2 linked regions of the Homo sapiens genome follow. The protein of the gene in region 2 purifies or fractionates together with the protein of the main gene of each other region. This does not show direct contact. Each region holds a gene or a part of one and is shown on either strand. Other genes may lie near its edges.

The links.
Region 1: the proteins of RGN (region 2) and WDR1 fractionate together in Homo sapiens (co-fractionation; one large-scale study listed by BioGRID). This does not show direct contact.

What each region holds. Positions count from the first base shown.
Region 1 is NC_000004.12:10,076,256-10,079,054, forward strand, and holds part of WDR1 (WD repeat-containing protein 1), read right to left. Parts: intron 2,747-2,799; coding exon 2,636-2,746; intron 2,438-2,635; exon of another isoform or gene 2,356-2,437; intron 1,672-2,355; coding exon 1,498-1,671; intron 1,194-1,497; coding exon 1,049-1,193; intron 1-1,048.
Region 2 is NC_000023.11:47,081,171-47,084,989, forward strand, and holds part of RGN (regucalcin), read left to right. Parts: coding exon 1-137; intron 138-3,247; coding exon 3,248-3,430; intron 3,431-3,819. UniProt on the Homo sapiens protein: Gluconolactonase with low activity towards other sugar lactones, including gulonolactone and galactonolactone. Can also hydrolyze diisopropyl phosphorofluoridate and phenylacetate (in vitro). Calcium-binding protein.

The sequences.
Region 1 (2,799 bases), on a different chromosome or scaffold from region 2:
TGCCCAGGAGCGCCTTCAACCACCAAGCATGACTTGGCTGTGAGGCCAGGCTTTAGCACTCTGTCCACATCACCAGGCTGGCTCTTTTCCAGATGCAGAACTCAACTATCTGCACGAGAACCCGATGCTGAGGTCACTTCATGTTTGGTGGCCTGTGACCTCACAGTGAAGACACAGACCCCGACCTCCTAATCTCTATCTGACTAGCTCTTGCTGTATTTTTTTCTGGATCCATTTCATTCATGAACTTGTTTGATTCTCACTACCAGACTGGCGATTGCCTTATAAACCAGGACGGACGTTGAAACCTGCTTTGTCTCTCCTCCCTTCCAGACCGGGCTGCCTTCCCTCTTTGCCTGTCCTGCACCTGAAGCCTGCAGCTGGGGAATGGGCTCTGGGGGTGGGCTCAGACATTTTTAAATAGGAAAGGGCCCCATTAATGTTTAACACAAAAGGATGTCTTCAAGGAGAATGGATGAGGGGACTTGACTACACACTAGGAGGAGAGTGGTAGGGGGGCACTCGGGGAGGGGAGGGTTTGGACAACACAGAGCTGCCTTACAATACGTGCATGGCCACGCGGGGACATCACAACCCCCTCAGGGAGAAATGATGACATGCGGGGCTAAATAAAACCTACTGTTACAAATCATTTCACCTGTTTCTTTTTTAAATGTGGCTACCAGGAAATTTCAACGCCACATGAGGCTCACATTATACACTGGACGTGGCTGTCTTAGGGAGGGGGAGACCCTGGTCCCAGGTGGGATTTAAGGGGTGAGTGGGGGAAGTGAAGATGTCAAAAGTGAGGCCTTCACTCAGCTCAGCAGGTGTCCTGTGCATGGGGCCCCCGTGGTCCCTCAGTACGGCCAGCAGCGCAGCTGGTGTTTGCTGGATGGAAGGAGACCCACAACTCTTCCGGGCCACCTGTCTAGAAGCACAGAGGCTACTTAGCCCTGGGGACTGAAGCCAGGGGACAGCCTGTGAGGTGGCCCATGGAGCCCCGAACCATGGGTGGTCCCTGCCAAGGCCTGGGGGCGGAAGTCACCTTGGATCTTGACTCTGGTTTCCGGGTCACTCAGGGTCCAAACATACACCATCATGTCCATGCCACCGGAGGCAAAGTGTTCATTGTCTGGGGACCAGGCCAGGCAGACGATTTTTGCATGGTGTCCATAAAAAACATTGTTCTCCTAGTTGCAGGTTGAAAACAAGAGAGGTGGCAGGTCAGGTTCAGGCCGCAGTTGCCCATATCACCTCGCTTATCCCTCATGGCGACAATAAGGACCGAGGTTTCTCACGCGCTAACTCTATGCCAGCGACCCCTGCAAACCCACTGACTCCTCAGAAGCATGGCACGAGGCACCTGCTACTTGTAGAGGCAAGAAAACTACAGCTCAGACAGGCTCAGCTCAAGGTCACCAAGTCACAGATAACCTCCCACTGCCACCTGCACCGCCCAGCACGGGGACAGAGGAGGAGCCCGCCGCCACTCACCGAGTAGCCGTCAGCAACGCTGAACACTGTGACCACCTTGCTGGCGTCGCACACCGCGAGGAAGGCGCCGTCGTGGGAGTAGGCCACGTCGGTCACGGGGCCCTTGGCCTCTAGGAGCTTGCCCTCATCCTTCAGCGTGGTGCCCAGGATGGAATACAGGCGGACGTTGCCGTCCTACGGCAGGGACAGAGAGGAAGTGAGCCACCCCTGAACACACACACCACACCCATCCTTTGTGAAGGGGGGGTCGAGGGCTTAAGAAACTGTGCCGTTCCCACTGACTGCTGCTCTGCTGGGCCCATGCCAGGAGCTGGGCATGGCTCTTCCCGTGGATGGGCCTGAAACCTACGCAGCTCTATGAAAACAGCTGTTGGTACCTCGGGGCACCGCTGGTCTCATGAGGCCCTCAAGCTGGCTGGTGGAGGAAGCCACTCCATGCCCTGGTCACATCCGGCACCTGAAGGACCTGGCAGCACATAGACCCACCCAGCCCCTAGCATGGAGGGCACTGCCACGCCTGCTGCAGGACTGGGTTATCAGAGGGCTGCCCTCCTGGGCTGGAGAGGGGAAATGAGCTCTTCTACAGAGCACTCAGGACTTGGCCAGGCACACTGTGACCAGACCACACACACAAATTCAAGGGCATGAGAATTATGCCGAGGCAGAACTCAAGGGAAACTGTAAAATGTCTGGTTAGTACCGCACCTTGAAGATGCTGGGAAACTTCTGTCACTCTTCCTTCAACCTGTGAGCCGAGCCCAGCCCCAGGGGATGCCATTCCTTGATTTCCTGACCTGCTACCCTCTTGCGCTCCCCTCCTGCCGCCACTCATGGGGCTGGCTCTGAGGCACAGCTGTGCCCTCCTCGGCACTCCCTCTACCTCACTGTCCACAGTCTTGTGGGCACCCGGGCAGTGAGGTGGGGGAAGTGCCGAGGAGGGGAGGGGAAGGCTCCAGCCCTGGGTGGCAGGAGATGGCGTGGCTGGGCCCCAGAGCAGGTCCCACGCCCCGACTGCCCCCATCCTTCCCCTGACCCCTCGCCTTCCCTGAGACAGCCCCGGTACTCACACAGCTCACACTGTCCCCAAATCACCCAGATACCAAGGACAGAGAGCACGGGGGAGAGGAAAGCGACTTACCACACCCCCAATTGCCACCGTGTCCCCGCCGGGGTGCACTGCCACAACTTCGGGCTCGTAGCCGGGGTTGTCGATGCTGAAGCACTTCCTCTGATCCTTCAGCAGGACAATCTGTGGCACACACAGGCAGCTGGTCAGGCGGTCCAGCCCTTCGGGACAAAACC
Region 2 (3,819 bases):
TTTGCCAGAGAACTGCCGGTGTGGTGAGTCTCCAGTATGGGAGGAAGTGTCCAACTCTCTGCTCTTTGTAGACATTCCTGCAAAAAAGGTTTGCCGGTGGGATTCATTCACCAAGCAAGTACAGCGAGTGACCATGGGTAAGGATGAAGGCTGGACTCAGATCAGCCAGCTACCTTTTCCCAGGGGAGGGGCGGTCACCACGGCACCCTTCTTGTTAAAGCACACTGACTACACTTGTCACGCTGTCTGTCCCCACTCCATATCCTCCCACTTTGACCCAGGGTTTAATTATGGATGGTCAATACTTTCCTCTTCCTCTTTGAATGAGGGGCAACATTCCTAGTTTTTTTTTGGGGGGGGGGGTGTTTTTGTTTATTTTTTGTTTTGTTTTTGTTGAGACAGGGTCTCACCGTGTTGCCCTGGCTGGAGTGCCATGGTGTGATCACGGCTCACTGCAGCCTTGATCTCCTGGGGCTCAAGGGATCCTCCTGCCTCAGCCTCCCTAGTAGCTGTGACTACAGGTGCGTGCCACTATGTCCAGCTAGTTTGTATTTTTTGTAGAGATGGTGTTTCACCATGTTGCCCAGGCTAGTCTCAAACTCCTGGGCTCAAGAGATCCACCCACTTCGACCTCCCAAAGTGTTGGGATTACAAGCGTGAGCTACCACGCCCAGCCCATTCCCAGTTTTGTTTGGATGCTGGGGCACTCTAGTTCCTGTCTTTCCTTAATACCTTCAGATAACCATGGAAAGTTAAAGACCCAGTTATCTGCCTTGGGTCAGGCCAAGACCTTAATTTTCAAACAAAACAAAACAAAACAAAAACAGGTGCCTCTCTTCCTTGAAAGTGAAAACTAGCTTTTGGATGTATAAAGCATCAACCAGGACCGTCTTTGTTTACTGCACAAAATAGAATTCATGATGGAATTTCATGTGCATTTGAGTGTGATGCGTTTATGGCCCTGCGAATTCTAAAGAAGGGATTTATCACTTTCTATGGCCCAAGGGAATAGGCTTAATGTAATTACTGATAGAGAAAGAAGTTTCTTGTTTTCACTGAGCCCATGGGAAAAAATATCAGGAATTCCTATAATCTTGGGACATTCTTTCTCAACCCAGAACTGGGACCTCAACTTTTTTTTTTTTTTTTTTTTTTTTTGAGACAAGGTCTGGCTCTGCCACCCAGGCTGGAGTGCAATAATGCAAACATGGCTTACTACAGCCTCAATCTCCCAGGCTCAAGCGATCCTCCCACCTTAGCTTCCTGAGTAGCTGGAACCACAGGCATGTGCCACCACACCTAGCTAATTTTTATTTATTTTTTGTAGAGACAGGGTCTCCCTATATTGCCCAGGCTGGTCTTGAACTCTTGGGCTCAAGCAATCCTCCTGCCTTGGCCTCCCAAAGTGCTGAGATTACAGGTGTGGGCCACCACGCCCAGCCTTAAACTTCTTTATTTTTAAATGAAAGGGAACAAATTTTTAATTCACCCAGAAGTATGACTGTGGTAAAGTGACTGTGACCTCTGAGGGTAGAATGGGGATGGGGTCCCCTTGCCTTTTCTAGTCTCTTTTGCAGCAGACACACATGCCAACCTGTGATCTGAAAAGCCCGCCCCCACCACCACCCGCCCCCAACCCATGGAAAAAGCTGTGGTGTCAGCAGTAGCTTAGAGAGCTACCAAGAGAAGTCTCAGGCTGCAGGTTGGGATCCCCAATGAGAGTGTGTCCTACACATTCCTTGGGACCCTTGATGGCTCCAATCAAAGTGTGAGCAGGGCTTTGAGCTAAGGGTGGCTCCTGAAGCTCCCATTATCTTACACTGAAGGGGTGCTTAGGAAATGCTTTCAAAATCTATTCTGATAAATTTATTTCCTGTGACCATTCACCACAGCAATCAATCTCTCCACTTAAAAAAATAAAATAAATTTAAAAAAAAAGCTTTCTTGGCCGGGTGCAGTAGCTCATGCCTGTAATCTCAACACTTTTGGGAGGCTGAGGTGGGTGGATCACTTGAGGCCAGGAGTTCAAGACCAGCCTGACCATCATGGTGAAACCGTGTCTCTACTAAAAATACAAAAATTAGCCAGGCATGGTAGCACAGCCTGTAGTCCCAGCTACTAGGGAGGCTGAGGCAGGAGAATCCTTTGAACCTGGGAGGCGGAGGTTGCAGTGAGTCAAGATCACGACACTGCACTCCAGCCTGGGCAACAGAGCAAGACTCCATCTCAAAAAAAAAAAAAGTTTTCTTATACATGGAAAAATATTAAATGAAGAAAACCTAAAATTTAAAAACATAAAATGTAGTAATATAATGAAGAGATGTGATTGTACTATCTCTGCATCTACATTCCTATCTGTTTATTATTTTTTACCATGCTTACTTCCAAAAAAGGATCTGAGAAACAATTTGCAATTAAATACATATAAAATAGGGCCCCTTAGAAAAGACGAATCCTGGGCCTGGCGTGGTGGCTCACGCCTAATATCCCAACACTTTGTGAGGCCAAGGCGGGTGGATCACCTGAGGTCAGGAGTTCGAAATCAGCCTGGCCAACATGGTGAAACCCCATCTCTACTAAAAATACAAATAAAAATTAGCTAGGCGTGGTGCATGCCTGTAATCCCAGCTACTCAGGAGGCTGAGGCAGGAGAATTGCTTGAACCCAGGAGGCAGAGGTTGCAGTGAGTTGAGATTGCACCATTGCACTCCAGCCTGGGAAACAAGAGCAAAACTCTGTCTCAAACAAAACAAACAAAAAAAAAAATGCAAATCCTGGATTGGAGAGGGAGAGAGATGTCACAAAACCTAGTTGCTGTAAATAAACTCGGTTTGTGTCTCTGAATTTTCTGGAGCATTTTCTGGCAAAATGGGGCATCACTCGCTCTGTGATGACTGTCCTGGTGCCCCTAGATTAGAAACTCCTCCTCTGAACTGGATGTGGCACCTGCCCCATATCATGGCCACTGGGCTTTCACTTCTCTGCTTTTCCCACAAGACTGGGAGCTTCCAGAGGAGTTGGGTTTTTTTCACATTTCTATCTATTGCTGCCCAGATCAGCACACAAAATTCATACTCAACAAATGTACTAGGTTACATAGCCTTCCCTACTCAACAGAAGGAAGAGAGCGCTCCCATTGTCACGAGAGCTGGGCTCCCGCTCTAAGAGATGCCAGGTAGCACAGTGATCTCAGTGGCCTCAGCCACTAAACTGGTACTGTTTTTTAACTGTTGCTTTACCTCTACAGATGCCCCAGTCAGCTCCGTGGCTCTTCGCCAGTCGGGAGGCTATGTTGCCACCATTGGAACAAAGTTCTGTGCTTTGAACTGGAAAGAACAATCAGCAGTTGTCTTGGCCACGGTGGATAACGACAAGAAAAACAATCGCTTCAATGATGGGAAGGTGGATCCCGCCGGGAGGTACTTTGCTGGTAAGATTTCTCTTAACACCTACTTATTACTGAGCCTTGGAGGAAATACTTTGACATACAAAGTTCTCACTACTGACCAGGGTGGTGGCTCCCGCCTGTAATCCAGCACTTTGGGAGCCAAGGCGAGTAGGTCGCATGAGCCCAGGAGTTCGATAACTGCCTGGGCAACATAGTGAAACCCTGTCTCTACCAAAAATACAAAAAATTAGCTGGGCCTGGTGGCATGCATCTGTGTTCCCAGCTACTCAGGAGGCTGAGTTGGAAGGATCATCTGAGCCCAGGAGTTTGAGGCTGCAGTGAGCCAAGATCGTGCCACTGCACTCTAACCTGGGTGACAGAGTGAGACCCGGTCTCGAAAAAAGAAAGAAAGAAAGTAAGTAAGTTAGTTA